Regions from separate parts of the Homo sapiens genome. Here region 1 is linked to region 2. The links come from fine-mapping of genetic effects on gene expression. Tissue or cell type: whole blood. Region 2 holds a variant in brackets; the other region holds the start of a gene. All regions are shown on one strand. Distances are from middle to middle.

Region 1 (7,802 bases), 23 kb before region 2:
TTTTGAGGAGGGAGAGACTATTTCACTTGTTAAGGTCTAGGAAGAGGAGTTGAGAGTTGGGTTCAACATTGAAAAACCAAATAGCATTTAAGTAAGTAAAGAGAAACAGGTCTCTTTGTAGGAAGTACAGCATGAAGAAAGTGTCATGAGAAGAAAGCACAAGGCATATTTTGGGAACAGTAAACCTAAAACAGAGGCATTATAGGTGAATAGGATGGAAAGCTAAGGTAAAGCCAGAAAATAGGGGGACTGAATATCAGGCTAAAGTGTTCATTATTTTTTTCTTTAGGCAGTCAGGAACCACTGAAGATGTTTGATGGAGGAAAGAATCTAAGTAAAGTACTATTAATTAATATCAATCTGGTAGTAGAATTGAGACATAAGACATTAAATCAGTTAAGAGATTTTTAAAGCTTGAGGGAAAGGCAATTGTCACAGATCCTGGTATAGTATAGTATAGGTGTTCGCTACGTATTATTTGAGTTGTTGAAGGTCTGAACTAAGGTGCAGGATGCTGGGCATGGAAAGAATTAGAAATAGATTCCAAAGAAATGACAAAGCAAGACATATGAACAAAATCTAGTGAAAAAGAAAGTGATTAAAGTAGTCAAGGTTCTAGCAGGAAACAGATGGTATACTCAAAGGGCCAGTGGACATGTTTTAATGAAGAAACTATTTGCAAAGGTATGGGCAAGTTTAATAAATCAACAAGATATGGTGATGTACCCAGGCACTCGCAAAGTAGGACGCCTTTACCAGCCTTAAACCTGAAGGGACAGTTACTGGAACCATGAGACTTGTACCCAAAGGAGAGAGCTATAGCTTCAACAGGAGCCATGGCTTTAGGTGAGGAATTCCAGACACTGCCAAAGATCTGCTAGTGCCTCCCACTGGTCTATTCTAATGGGAAGCCAGAGAACAAGGGAGATTGAGTGATGCTACCCATACAGCCTAACCTCTTGGAACACAGAACAGGGCAAAAAAGATGAATAGTGGATATGGAAGGGTAATGAGAGTATATGCAGCATAGTGAACAAGGACAAGGTTCCTGCTAGGGAAACTAAAGTTGAGCGATCCATGTTTGTGCTTTCCTTAGTCATTGGCTCTAAAAGGATAGAAATCTAGGAGCAGATAGTGAAAGGGGGAATTAAGAAGGATTGTAAGTAACAGTCCGAGAGGTAATGAACAGTTGAGCATTTGAAAAAAATGTAACTCTTTCAGAAAGAGGTGAGAAAATACAATCCCTAAACCCAATGCAAAAAGTTCAATATGGGGTCCTCGGACCCTGTGATGTATCTCTTCCACCCAGAAATAGTAACTAAAGTTGGACCTCTCTGTCCAATTTGTTTTACAGATTCCAGTCTCTTCTTCGTTCCCACAACTGCTATCTACATCTCACTCCTTTGACTTCAGTGACATGCTTAGTTTTTTTTTTATTTTATTTTTTTATTAGTTGTTTCCTTATCTGCCTAAATTTGGTGCCTCCCATCTCTCTACTAGGACAGCCATGTAGGGACAGATTGACTGAAACCTTTCTGCTATACTACTGAAACCAATCCAGCCACAAGGACCCTTACTTAGTTAATCCTCAGACACCTACCTCCCATATTTTCTATCTTAGGGAACTAAGCCTCACTTATCTATTATTTGCAGAAGAAAAGAATAAATCAGAGGTAGAAAGAGTCACAGTGAGAGAGAATATCCAGAATATCAAGATGAGAGATCAATAAGAGAAAACATAGGAAAATTAGAATTTGTGATCAACATTTTATTGGCAAGTCAGCCACATAATGATTAAGATATTCTAGGTCAGACAGACTGGGTTTTGAGTTCTAGCACTGTCACTAGTTAGCTATGTGACTTGGGAAAATTACTTAATCTCCATAAGCCTTGGTTTTCTTCATTTGTAAAGGTGGGAATATCTACCTTACATGAAAAGTACTTAGCATAATGCCTGGTACATTGCAAATGAGTCCTCAACAAATCCAGCTATTATAAATAATAGTAATCATCATCATCATAATCATCATTATATGAGTGGTGATGTGCTGCCACTATATATATGGCTAATATACTGCAAAAAAATGGTTAGAATTATCAATCTAAGGCATGTAATGATACCAAGGCATATAAAAGGACATAGAGCTATCACAATATGAATATGGAATATATAAGATTAACACAGTTCATCTCCAAGGGATAAATTGAAGTGTAGGATGGATGAGCAGCAGGTAGTTCTGGGAGCTGCATGTTCAGACTGCATGAAGTCACCTCCTTTTCCTTATTCTAGTCTAGAAGACTTCCCCTAGGAAGCAGGCTTATTCTATAAAATCCAATTAGTCAGTATTTACTAAGCATTTACCATGTGCCTAAGACTACAATAAATTACACATAATTGAAAAAAATTAAGGATAAGATATAATTTCTACCCCCAAGAACCCTATAATCTCTTGTGAGGGCTATGAATACAATCTAAAATAAAGTATCAAATTCTACAATGCGGACTATGTAAGTGCACTAAGTAACCACGGAAAGGGAAGAGCTAATGGGTTACAGTCCTTGGCAAGAAATTCATGGAAGTAGGGTTGGAGTGGGGTGGGGGGAGCAGGGGACCTTGACATACATAAAGGATATTTAAAAGGGAAAATAACTGGGAGTTGGGAGCAATCCAAAGATGCCACTCTAGAAATATTCTGGTAGGAGGAACCTCTAAAATCAATTCAACTTTACTGAATGGCTACTAGTACTGTGTTAGATGTTGAGGTAGAGAAAAGAACAAGATAATCTCTGATACCGAAGAATTGAAAGTGTCCTGATGGAAAACTAGGAGAGCAAAACAAACAAAAACAGTTATTACAAAGCAGTGTGACAAATGCTGTAACAAAGGAATGACCAGGGAGTTCTGGAGCACTGGGAGAACTTTTAGTAGCATGGCAGGGTCTTCTGTGTGAGTGATTTTCTGGAACTTAGATCCCGTCCGCCCCAGTCTACCTATCCTCGGACAGGGGAGGGGACTGGCATCTAAGTCATTCATTCTGCGTGATGAGGAAGTGAGTGGGAGCTGGGAGCTAACACTTGCACTGATGCCTGAAGGGTTGAGTAGGTATTTGCCAGAGTGATTGGAGAGCGGATGGCAACTTTGACAGAAGAAATAGCAAATACAGAGATACTGAGGCATAAGGGGCTGACAAGTTAAGGAATTTTGTGACGCTTTCCTGTCTTCTTTCCCATCACCTTCACCTAGGGTTGCCGGATAAAATACAAGCTGCCCACTTAAATCTGAATCTCTGATTACCAACTAGTAATTTAAAAATATAAGTATGCCTCCAATATTGCATGGAACATACACACTCAGCCCCCTTCAACTCATCCTGTCCTGTCCGGGGCCCACAAATCCCCGGTGAATACCGGCGAGCTAGTGGAGTAAAGCATGAGAAGGCTTATCTTCCTTTCACTCCTACATTTTTCACTCTCGGATCTCCAGCCCAGGACTGAAGGATGTAGCGCGCAGCCCGCAGCTCGCTGCTCGTCGGAGGGTTTTCCTCTGAGGACTGGAAATGGGGCGCGGGAAGAGGGCGGGGGGCGGCGGGCTGTCACTTACAAAGAAATCTCACTCCACTCCATAAAATCCTCAAGCCAGTGCCGGATTTCCCGGCAAGCGGACGTCTCCCCTCCCACGGACCGGAAATCCCGCCTCCGCTGGAAGAAGAAGCGGAAGCGAGACCGTCCATCCAGAGGAAGGCAAGTTTTTGGCTCGGGCGGCTGAGAAGACCGCGCGGGGCTGGAGACAGGTAGCAGTACGGGGGCGGGGCTTCATGCCGGATGTGATAGTCTGCAGTCGTTTCGGTTGGCAGCCTGGCGGGTGGGAGATGCGGCGGCCACCTGCTGCAAAGAACCGAAGGGAAGGTTAGAAGTACGAAGGCAGTTTGGAGCTGGGGCTAAGCAGCTGTCGCACGGTCAGATCATGGGCTCCACCAAGCACTGGGGCGAATGGCTCCTGAACTTGAAGGTGGCTCCAGCCGGCGTCTTTGGTGTGGCCTTTCTAGCCAGAGTCGCCCTGGTTTTCTATGGCGTCTTCCAGGACCGGACCCTGCACGTGAGGTATACGGACATCGACTACCAGGTCTTCACCGACGCCGCGCGCTTCGTCACGGAGGGGCGCTCGCCTTACCTGAGAGCCACGTACCGTTACACCCCGCTGCTGGGTTGGCTCCTCACTCCCAACATCTACCTCAGCGAGCTCTTTGGAAAGTTTCTCTTCATCAGCTGCGACCTCCTCACCGCTTTCCTCTTATACCGCCTGCTGCTGCTGAAGGGGCTGGGGCGCCGCCAGGCTTGTGGCTACTGTGTCTTTTGGCTTCTTAACCCCCTGCCTATGGCAGTATCCAGCCGCGGTAATGCGGACTCTATTGTCGCCTCCCTGGTCCTGATGGTCCTCTACTTGATAAAGAAAAGACTCGTCGCGTGTGCAGCTGTATTCTATGGTTTCGCGGTGCATATGAAGATATATCCAGTGACTTACATCCTTCCCATAACCCTCCACCTGCTTCCAGATCGCGACAATGACAAAAGCCTCCGTCAATTCCGGTACACTTTCCAGGCTTGTTTGTACGAGCTCCTGAAAAGGCTGTGTAATCGGGCTGTGCTGCTGTTTGTAGCAGTTGCTGGACTCACGTTTTTTGCCCTGAGCTTTGGTTTTTACTATGAGTACGGCTGGGAATTTTTGGAACACACCTACTTTTATCACCTGACTAGGCGGGATATCCGTCACAACTTTTCTCCGTACTTCTACATGCTGTATTTGACTGCAGAGAGCAAGTGGAGTTTTTCCCTGGGAATTGCTGCATTCCTGCCACAGCTCATCTTGCTTTCAGCTGTGTCTTTCGCCTATTACAGAGACCTCGTTTTTTGTTGTTTTCTTCATACGTCCATTTTTGTGACTTTTAACAAAGTCTGCACCTCCCAGTACTTTCTTTGGTACCTCTGCTTACTGCCTCTTGTGATGCCACTAGTCAGAATGCCTTGGAAAAGAGCTGTAGTTCTCCTAATGTTATGGTTTATAGGGCAGGCCATGTGGCTGGCTCCTGCCTATGTTCTAGAGTTTCAAGGAAAGAACACCTTTCTGTTTATTTGGTTAGCTGGTTTGTTCTTTCTTCTTATCAATTGTTCCATCCTGATTCAAATTATTTCCCATTACAAAGAAGAACCCCTGACAGAGAGAATCAAATATGACTAGTGTATGTTCCACACCCTCTGCTACTGTGTTACATTCTGATTGTCTTGTATGGACCAGAAGAGAGCTTTGGGACATTTTTTCTGAACATTCTAAGCATTCTAGTGAAAGTTCCCATGTTCCAACAGAACTTAAAAGCAATGTTTGCCTTATATATAAAAGGGACACAATAATTGAGGTCCACCTTCTAGGAAATCCTAGGACTCGTTTATTTGGGACATGGTGGGAATAAAGGTCACATATTGGAAAATGGAAAGGCTGATGAAACTATCAGATACTAAAACATTCTTAAAATAGAGGAATATAGTTAGAGACATCAGGTTTAAGCCAGTATTTGTTCCTGTTTTACAATGCTTCTGTCTTAAGCTGTGTCTTAACTTTTAACACCCATCTTTTCTTTCTAAAGCTTTCCTGACAGCTGTGAAAATCCAAAAAATATTCTTAAACTGTGTATGGTGGCCCTTGCCTGTAGTCTCAGCACTTTGGGAGGCTGAGGTGGGAGGGTCGCTTGAGTTCAGGAGTTCTAGACCCACCTGGGGCAAGATGGTGAGACCTAGTCTCAAAAAAAAAAAAAAAAATTAGCCAGGTGTTGTGGTGCACCCCTGTAGTCATAGCTGCATGGGAGGCTGAGGTGGGAGAATTGCTTGAGCCCAGAGCAAGACCCTGTCTCAAAAAAAAAAAAAAAAAAAAAAAGGAAAGGACAACTTTTTAGATAGAAAAGTATTAAATAATACTAAGATGCTTAGTAGTATTATTTTAGAGAGTTTTAAACTTCTATATTAAATGTGGGGTCTTACAAGATAATCCAAAGACTTTGGGAGGCCAAGGCGGGCAGATCACGAGGTCAGGAGATTGAGACCATCCTGGCTAACACGGTGAAACCCCTCTCTACTAAAAATACAAAAAATTAGCCGGGCGTGGTGGGTGCCTGTAGTCCCAGCTACTCCTCGGGAGGCTGAGGCAGGAGAATGGCGTGAACTCCGGAGGTGGAGCCTGTAGTGAGCCGAGATGGCACCACTGCGCTCCAGCCTGGGCGACAGAGCAAGACTCCATATCAAAAAAAAAAAAAAAAAAAGATAATCCAAAGAATTTAAATTGTAATCATGTTTCATGTATTTGTTTTATTACTTACTTTTATAGCACTTAGTCCCAGTGGTATTAGACTGCTATTTGGTTTCATACAAAAAGGATTAAATTTAAATTCATTCATGTTTAGACTTGAGTTATTACATTTTTAAAACTATCATCTTGCCTTTAATGTTTGTGGTCCTACACAAACTATTAGTACATTTCAGTATCCTCTTACCCCTTTGTTTTTAAGTTTTTGATTGCTAAAGCAAGACTTTTTTCTTCTAGAATTTAAGTCAACCAAGTGTTATCTATGTTGTAAAAATGGATAATAGTAGATTTTAGGTGATAAAACAACTTGTTAGTAAGACATTTCCTAGCTTAAAAAAAAAAATCAAAAATTCCATGATAGAAATGCAGACCTGTGAGGGAAACTCCTGAAAAGCATAAGAAGCATCCCAGAGAGCCATGGGTTTTCTAGACCAGAGAATTTAGAGGGAGATTGTGGAACTGAGGCTTAGGTGGTCAGATCGTTTCCCTTATCACTGTAATATTTCTGGGGGAAAAATGCTTTCTGAGTTGTTTAAACAAGCATCCTTACATTTTTTTTTTTAATTAAACAGCCTGTCTAGGCTTGGGATTCCCTAATACTACAGTAGCAGTATATGAATATGATTTTGTGATTGTGTTTTTTAAAAGATAAGTAATTTGATGAACTGTTCTTTTGCAGTCAGAAAACACTCACAAAAAGACAAAAAAAGTTCCACAGTATTATATTTCATGTCAGTTCAGGCCTAAAATCCTTTGCAAATAAGATGTTTATAGGCTGGTCACAATTAACAATGTTATTATTGGCAGCACTTCTTGGATGGATACCTTTTGGGACCTTTCATTAGAAAGAGGGAAAGAATGGGGTGGTTTTGTATGGGCTCCTGTTTGGGGTAAAAATAGCAGAGTCAGTTGCTGAGGACAATGACCTTCCTTATAACATTTAGTTTCATACCCATATTAGGTCTTGTCTTGAGGACCCTTTATATGTGCTTGTTTACTAGTGGCCTTCCAGCCATAGCATTCTTACCTTTTTTTCCTATTCTAAGAATTAAAAAAAAAAATTATAGAGCCAGCAAGGGAGGAGGCAGGAAACAGAAATCGAATTTCATCATTCCAGTATAGTTGTCCCTTTTTTTGTATTTCTGACTTGGTTTTATAATTATATTTACTTACTAATTATTGTTTTTTAACATTCTTTATTGTGGCTTACTCTTCATACTTAGAATTGAAATTGTTGGACATCACATGTATATTCACATTATAAATACATCATTCTTCCACTGTTAGACCTTTAGATTGCTTCCAGTTTTTAATATTCTAAATAAGACTTTCAACATTTTCTGTGTTTTAGCTCATTCTCTTAGGACATTCTTAGAAGTTAGAAACATTTCTGCTGGGATCGTTGGAGGGAACTTCAAACTTTGGAATCTTTCCTGCAAGAAATTCTTTA
Region 2 (7,802 bases):
CCCACCAGTGTACTTTATTCATTTTTGTTGTCTGCCTAATCCCTGAAGGCATTTCAGGATGCTATTAAGTTTTGTATATTTATTTTGCAATTGGACACATTACACGAATTCTCTAATTAGTACTAACTGTTTTGTGGCTAATTTTCTTGGGGTTTCAAGTAATTATATCATCATGCAAAAAATTATAATTTTATCTTCTCTTTCCAAAATATATACTTTCTAATTCTTTCTTCTCGCCTTATTACAGTTGCCTAAAAATTTCTCACATTTTGAATAATCGTTATGACTGTTAATTTTAACTTTAATTTTTAACATGAGGAGATTGAGAGATGCCTAAATGGCTGGTTTGTTTCTGGGTGTGTCTGTTTCCAGGAGAGATTGGTGGGTGAGTCAGTGGACTGAGAGAAGAAGACTTGCCCTCGATGGGGGCAGGCATTGTCCAACTGGTTGGGGGCCTGGTTGGAACAAACAGGAGAAAGACAGCAGATTCTCTGTCTCTGCTGTCTTTCCTCTGGAGTGGGAGGCTTTTCCTCCTCTTGCCCTTGGACATCAGGCTCCAGGTTCTTTGGCTTTTGGACTCTGGGACTTGCACCAGTGACCTCCCAGGGCTCTCAGGCCTTTGGCCCCAGACTGGAGGCTGCACGGTCAGCTTCCCTGGTTCTGAGTTCCCTGGTTCTCTTTAGCTTACAGGTGGCTGGTCGTGGGACTTTGCCTCTGTGGTCATGTGAGCAGCCAATTCCCTCATAAATCCCCTCTCATATCCTACTGGCTCTGTTTCTCTGAAGAACCTTGACTAACACAAGGCTCATAATAGCAGGCATCTTTATACGGTACCTAATTTTAATGGGAATGCCCCTTGTGCTTGACTTTTAGGTATGAAGTAAGCATTTTTTTATTGTGTCAAGGAAGTATACTTTTTATAGTTCTCTGATGTTTTGATTTTGTATTAATATCAGTAATATATGTGGAATTTCATCAGACCAAATGACTCTTCAATATCTATTGATATTATCCTGTGACTTCTCTAAATTTAATACATTATAATAAGAGATTTTTCTAAGGGTTTATATGCTTCACATAGTTTAAGCCATGTATGTATTTTTATTATGAATCCTACCAATGTCTAACACTACTTAATAAACCCTAATAATATCCTTCTTAATCTAATTTGCTAGAATAAATCCAGATAAATATTATTTTATTAAGTTTGTCTGGCACTCCTCATATTGGCCCCATTATTTCTATATGTGGTCATTTTCCTCCATTTTCTCATCCTTACAATGGGAGGCTTATGCCTGTCCAGCATGGGAATGGGTAAGTGTTCTCTCAGAGATTATGCATCCCTGTGAAAGCCTTTCAGTCTTGGCACAGGAAATAAGTTTATATTTTGTTGACCTTAACCACCTTAGAAGTGTCTTGGTGTATGAGAAGTAAGAAGAGAGGTGGCCATAGGTAGGCAGCCTCATCTCTGGCTGAAGGGCTCCTCCTGGGATTGTCACAGCAGCTGAAGCCCACCGGGGCAGGCAGCAGTACCCCTCCAGCCAGCATGGCGGCCCTCCCCAAGAGCAAACCTCATCAGAACCTCTGCTCCATTCTCCATGCCTTCTGTGCTGTGAACAAGTCTTGAGCATCCCTGGGACCACCCGGCCCTCCTTGAGAGCTCCAGCACCTGTTTCCTTCTCAAGGTGGTGGTGGAGTTTGAATTTGACACTGCCCTCAACAAAATGACAGTCTTATGATCGTCACTCATCTCTGGTCCCGTCACACCAAGGAGTGGAGTGTTTGTCCTCTTCTTTTGCATAGGTCATTTCAGCTGCAAGTTACGAAGGGAGAGTGTTAAATGCATTGACTCAGATTGTCATGCTGAATTGGAAACACTGGCTATTCCACTTGTATTGACTCTCAAGTTGAAAAGTGGGCCTTTTGTGCATTCAGCATGCCTCCCAGAGCCTAGCAAGGAGGGTAGAGATGGATAGGCAGCTTCTTTTTTCCAATCCATACTTGAGAAAATTTCAGCTGCATCAGCAGGTTACAAGGGAAACTACCTGAATGCCACCTGGGATTTATAGCCACCTGGGGGATAAGCATTTGTTTCTAATGTGGAATAAGATAATCTTTTCCTCCTAGCCTCTGGACAATAGAAAGGGAGTCTGACCATTTGCCAAACACATTGTGGAAGGGGAAAGTACGTAGAACTGGAGATTGGACAATGTCCTTAATACTCTTCCTTTACAGAAATTCTGTGACTAGTGTTTTATTTGACTAGAGATGGAGGGCTCCATCTCTCTAATCTTGAAGTCCTGAGATATGTGCCTGCTTGTTCAATGTCACCTAAGGCTTTTTAGTCAGTGTTGAAGGATGGGGCTGTCTTATGATCACACAGATATGTTTTATTGTCTTAAGGGCCTGACAAATCAGGGATACCTTCTAGTTAAATTCCTCTTTAAGGGCCTGAAGTCTCCTTAGTACTCAGCATGCAGTTCAGATGTTTCCCTTTCTCCTGGGAAACAAATAGGATTCTCAAATTGTGACTTTGTTAATTGTTCTTAAGCAAATTGCATTAAAATTTATATGCACCTTTCCAAGAGAAGATAAATTACACATGTTAAAGGAAGGAGAAGAAAAGACACAGTGATTATGAAATTCCTCAGAGAAAGGTTCTTTGTTCTTTGCGTGCCTCATAATCTATCTGTCAGAGCAGACCTGTCCATTCAGCAGGTCTAAGATGGCAGTGAGTTATGATTGGGGGACTCAAGCTTATCATCCTCATTCTCGGGAATATAATTGAAAGGTCAGAATACTTCCCCTTTGAGAGTTATCCAGCTTTGCCCAGGGGCTTGGCTGTGGTCCATGGGTCTTTAACTTGAGGACAGGGGGAAGGTAGGGTAGGGAACGTGGTCTTAGATTTCTCAGATATTTGAAAATAACTTTATCTTCGGTCAAAATCTGGAAACTGTACACATTACAATCAAGTGTTTCTTGGACTTTCTAGGGTAGAGGAAAAATGGGACAATGAAATAACTCTTTTATTCTTTTATGTCTGTTGGAGTCTTGAAACTCTCATCACTTTGCCCCGATATCATTCAGTCGGGCCCAACCTGAGCAAGAGAACATCTCTGATTTGATAAGCTTCTAAAGTAGTGTACATATTGCATTTTGACCACAATAAGACAGATTATGCAGAGTGCTATGAGACAGAGACAGGCCTAAAGAACTTCACTTTCTTTTTCTTTTCTTTTTTTTCTAACATAAAAGGCTGGGCAATTATTCAGGCATTGCCCATGCCACTCCTGACCTTGTGCAATTGTCCAGAAAGTCCCTGAGCCCAGAGCTGGGTGCAGGCTGTGCCTACAGCAAAGTCCTTGGGGGTAACCGGTAGCCTGTGGGGGAGGGGTACTGTTATGACCTCCTTTTACAACTTTCGCAAGGGCAGGCAATCTGGATCAGTGGAGTTAGCTAATCATAACTTCCTCAGTTATTTTATAACTCTGTGC[C/T]TCAGTTTCCTCTTCTCTAAAATGATGATAAAAATAGAATGTACTTTTTAGAGATGTGAAAATTAAATGAGGTAAAACTGTTAGGAGAGTTTCAGGGCTAGAGTAAGTGCTTAATCAATCATTATTTATGACATTATTACCTTATTTGGATCATTGAGGAGTAAATTTCTCTCTATTCTTGAATAGAAATGCTTAATAATCAAACAATTTGGTTTCTAAGTGAAGATGAGCTTTTAGTGGGAAATTTACAGATATCTTATGCCTCCCCTTCTTGCCTATACAAAGCCTGTATTCTTGGTTGGGACACCAAGAGCCTTATAAACTTTGCTTAAGCACAACAGAGAATATTCACAAAGTCTCTTAATCTCATCCAATTCCCATGAGAAGGAACACTGTTACATAGTGATGACAGTGGATCTCAACTGCATCATGAATTCTTCCCAAGAGACTCCTGAAACATTTATTTTATGGTAAAGATGCCTTCCAGCAAGATTGACTATAAAAAGAATTTTCTCTCTCTCATTGACTTGTTTTATAAAATCAGAGATATGATCTCATGGAAGAAAATCTTCCAATTGATTTGACAAAAATGCTTAGTTAAAGAATGAGTAGATGATGTGTTTGTTTTATTCCACAACTAAATTGTAAGTTCTTAAAGGGAAGGGAGCTAGATTCCTATTTTTGTAGATTACAAAGATTCAGTACATCGGACTGACCTGGTGGCTCATGCCTGTAATCCTAGCTACTTGGGAGGTCAAAGTGGGAAGATTGCTTGAGCCCAGGAGTTTGAGGCTGCAATGAGCTGTGATCGTGCCATTGCACTCCAGCCTGGGCGACAGAGTGAGACCCTGTCTGTAAAACAAAACAAAACTAAACAAGAATAGATTTAGTACAGGACCCTAAAATGTGCGGGGTACAGTAAATGTTGACATGGGCTGACCAGGTCCGAATAGTAGAAACAGAATATTTTTGAAACTTTTAAGAAGAAAATTCGCTTATGAAAAGATAATAATAGATGTGCCTAGATGTGGGAGTGAAGACAGTAGCCACACTCACTTGACTCTGCCTTTCCTAGAGGGCCCTGAGGGTGTCCTTTAGTGTTTTGAGGGCCTCTGAGAGGGCGTGACCCTGTTTGATTGAAGATGAGGCTCCTGAGACCAAGTGACTTAACCAAGTCTATACCAAGTTATTTATGGTAAAATCAGGACTAGGACTCAGACCTTTAACTGAACATGGAGATTCCAAGATCTCCCTTCTGCTTTCTCTGTATGAAAGGAATTTTTCTTATTTTGATTTATACCTGAGACTAGTATAATTCCACATCAACCAGCTCCTGTTAAATTTCCTGTGAAAGGAAGTTGGATGCAATATCACAATTGACCAATAGATGTCACTATATGCCATATTATTGTGCATGTGGCCACCTGTCTGAAATTTGCTTGAATTTCTTAATTGGGGTGGGGTCTGCAGACTTCTGGGAATCACTGGATCTGTTTGGGAGACACAAAAGAACTATGAGAATTTTAAAAATTGTATCTTAAGCTTGATAAAAGTTTTATCAAATCAAGAGTTATTCGACCTGCTATAAAGGCAAAACTCTTACTTGAAATCTTTTTTGATAGGAAAAAAGGGATGTTTTTCAAGTTGAGTTCCCTGGATGAGAAGTGGAGTTAGTGGGGCTGTGAGGAGCCCCTAACTTCTATTCAATTGGCAAAACCTCCCCTTCCACTTCATAGAGAGGAGTCTGAGGGATTGAAGGGCATGAGATTTGAAGTTCAACACAACTGGGTCTGAGTTCTGGTTCATTCATTAGCTGTCTGATCTTGAGTATGTTATTTAACCTCGTCTAGCCCCACTTCCCTCAGCTGTAACATAATGACACTGATCATATGGTGTTGTAAGGATGAAATGAGACGATATGTGAAAACACAAAGATTAACTGTCATTATTAACTATGACCATTTCACTTTACGAAGGCATTTTTATAACTAAAAATGCTTGGAAAGTACTAACTAGTCCAAGTTTCCATTTTAAAAATGGGACTTAAGAGGCCAAGTTATTTGGTTCTCTGATTATGTTTTACAATTTCATAATACAAGTATTTATGTAAAACAAGACATGCCTGTTCTAAATCTTTTACAGGTGTGTCCCTCCCCACTTGGGGAAATGTGATATGTCCCTATTCAAATTTATCAAACTGATGAAATACAAAATAACCCTTCACTTTGTAATTTAGCAGGCTAAATAATCCAGTTTATTTGAAACTTTTATCTTTATTTTTTTCTGTTTATAAAAGTATTCTAGAATAAGTGTGCAAAATTTCAGCAAATGATGTGTTTAAGTAATGATTTGATTGATGTAGTTAAAATATAATTTAATAATTAAATATGGATGTTTTCATAACTTTTCAACCACACAGTTTTAATGTTTTGATTTAGTCGATTCATTTATTAGGCAAATATTTTCATTGGGAACATTCATATTCACCGAATACATGTATAGGCTGCTAAGTGAAGGCTTTAATGGAGTGGGAATTCATGAATACTTGACCTTATGATGTCGGTTGCTCTGATAAATTGTTAGCTGAAAGAATAATTCAAAGTGTTGTGGGTCTACACTTTGAAGTAGAGGTTGAAGGCCTCTACTGCTGCTGCCGACAGAGGGCGCAGGCAGGTTTGTGCATCTTCTGAGCAGGTGGGGTGCTGTGAGTTACATCTGGGCCAACTACCCATTCAGGAGGCACACCATCTGGGGCCATGATACTTACTGGTACCCATGAAAATGTTTTAATTTTAAGTTCTTTTGAAATACAAAGAAAAAATAAATATAAGAATAATGAATATAATAAGGAATCCAGCTTACATTACATTTTGCCTGGGAAACAGCCAGACTCCATCTCTACAAAAATAAAAATTAAAAATTAAAAAAAAAAATTAGCCAGGTGTGATGGCAGGCACCTGTAATCCCAGATACATGGGAGGCTGAGGCAGGAGAATTGCTTGAGCACAGGAGTTCAAGGCTGCAGTGAGCTATGATGGCACCAATGCACTCCAGCCTGGGTGACAGAGCGAGATCCTGTCACAAAAAAAAAAAAAAAAAAAAAAAAAAATTATGGAGGTGAGGCTCTCTAAGGCCAGAGTAGCTAAGGCCCATGAAAATTATAATGTGACCTGAGCTACACTTCCAAAAAATGTGGAGTCCTAAGTTTACTGTAAGGGGAGAGGGGGATGAGGGAGAAAGTTGGAGGAAGAGGGAGTTGCTGAAGGCAAACTCGGCCTCGGGCCTGGGACACACGATAACCCAGAGAGTAGGGTGAAGGTTTAGCTCACCTGGGCTCTGACTGACTATATGGGAGGTGACCTGGGAGTGTAGGAATTATTTTAAGTTACAAAACTGTTTGTACAAAGACCTTTCTGACCTCATAGCTGCCAAGCTCCTAGACTTTTACCTGCTTCCCAAATCTTCAAAAACAGGCCGTTTTATTCGCCTCGCTTGCAGTCTGTAAAATGTCTTGCTGCCTATAAAATGTCATAGGTCTGGATTGGAAAACACAGGGTGGGCAGGCTGCATGATTCCTCCCCATCTAGGCCTAGGGAGAGCTATGTTTCAGGCTAAGTAGTAGTGCGGGTCGACTTTTCCCTCCTTGGAAAGTTACCATTGGAGGAACTCTGAGACTTCCAAGCAGGTATCTCTGCCTGAACATGAGGGGAGAAAAGAGATCACCCTCTGGGAAAAGAGCAGGCTTGCTGGTAACTCAGAGGACACTTTCTGACAGGCAAGAGAAGAAAGCTAGGTTTCCAGTCTGTGGCTTTTCTCTCTCCAGTGACAGTGTGTTCTGGCACTCCCAGATATGATTGCCTGGTTGCTTAGGGATGGCGCCTGGACCCTTGGCCTGGCGTCTTTGAGGGCTTCCTTCTGGGAAGAGAGAGGGCAAGTGAAGCAGGCTAGAACACGGCCATCTGGTGGCACTGGGCAGTCGACCAGCATCCCCTGCCATCCAGTGAAACACCTGTGAGACTCATGGGGTGGGATGGGAAGATGGGGTTGGGGAGGCTCTGCCCTCAAGAGCTTTGGTGCCATGCACCCATCCAGCCCCAGAGAGAGGGGCAGCAGTGGAGCAGGGGCAGAAGTCTAACAGTCACTCCTGACAGCTGGGGCCAACAGTGAGCCTGGAGAGACCTTGGCTGTGGAGGGGGGATGGAGGTGGCAGGTGTGCCTCTCAACGGAGGGAATAATGGGGATGCATGTGTACAGATACGGTCTGGCTTTTCTGGGGCCAACACCACTCCTACCTGCCTCTTGGCGAAC

Evidence for each region. PIP is the estimated chance that this variant, and not a neighbour inherited with it, causes the effect.
Region 1: PIGM starts here. The variant in region 2 is fine-mapped to the expression of PIGM in whole blood (INTERVAL, PIP 0.99).

What each region holds. Positions count from the first base shown.
Region 1 is chr1:160,027,902-160,035,703 of GRCh38, reverse strand. It overlaps PIGM (phosphatidylinositol glycan anchor biosynthesis class M), which reads left to right and starts at 3,714. Exons shown (of 1, transcript NM_145167.3): 1 at 3,714-7,802. The coding sequence starts at 3,965. The coding sequence ends at 5,236.
Region 2 is chr1:160,004,867-160,012,668 of GRCh38, reverse strand. All of the region lies in intron 3 of LOC124904436 (a long non-coding RNA gene), which reads left to right. Among named protein-coding and RNA genes, the nearest start is that of PIGM, 23 kb to the left of the region's middle. The variant C/T (reference allele first, on the strand shown) is at 3,495.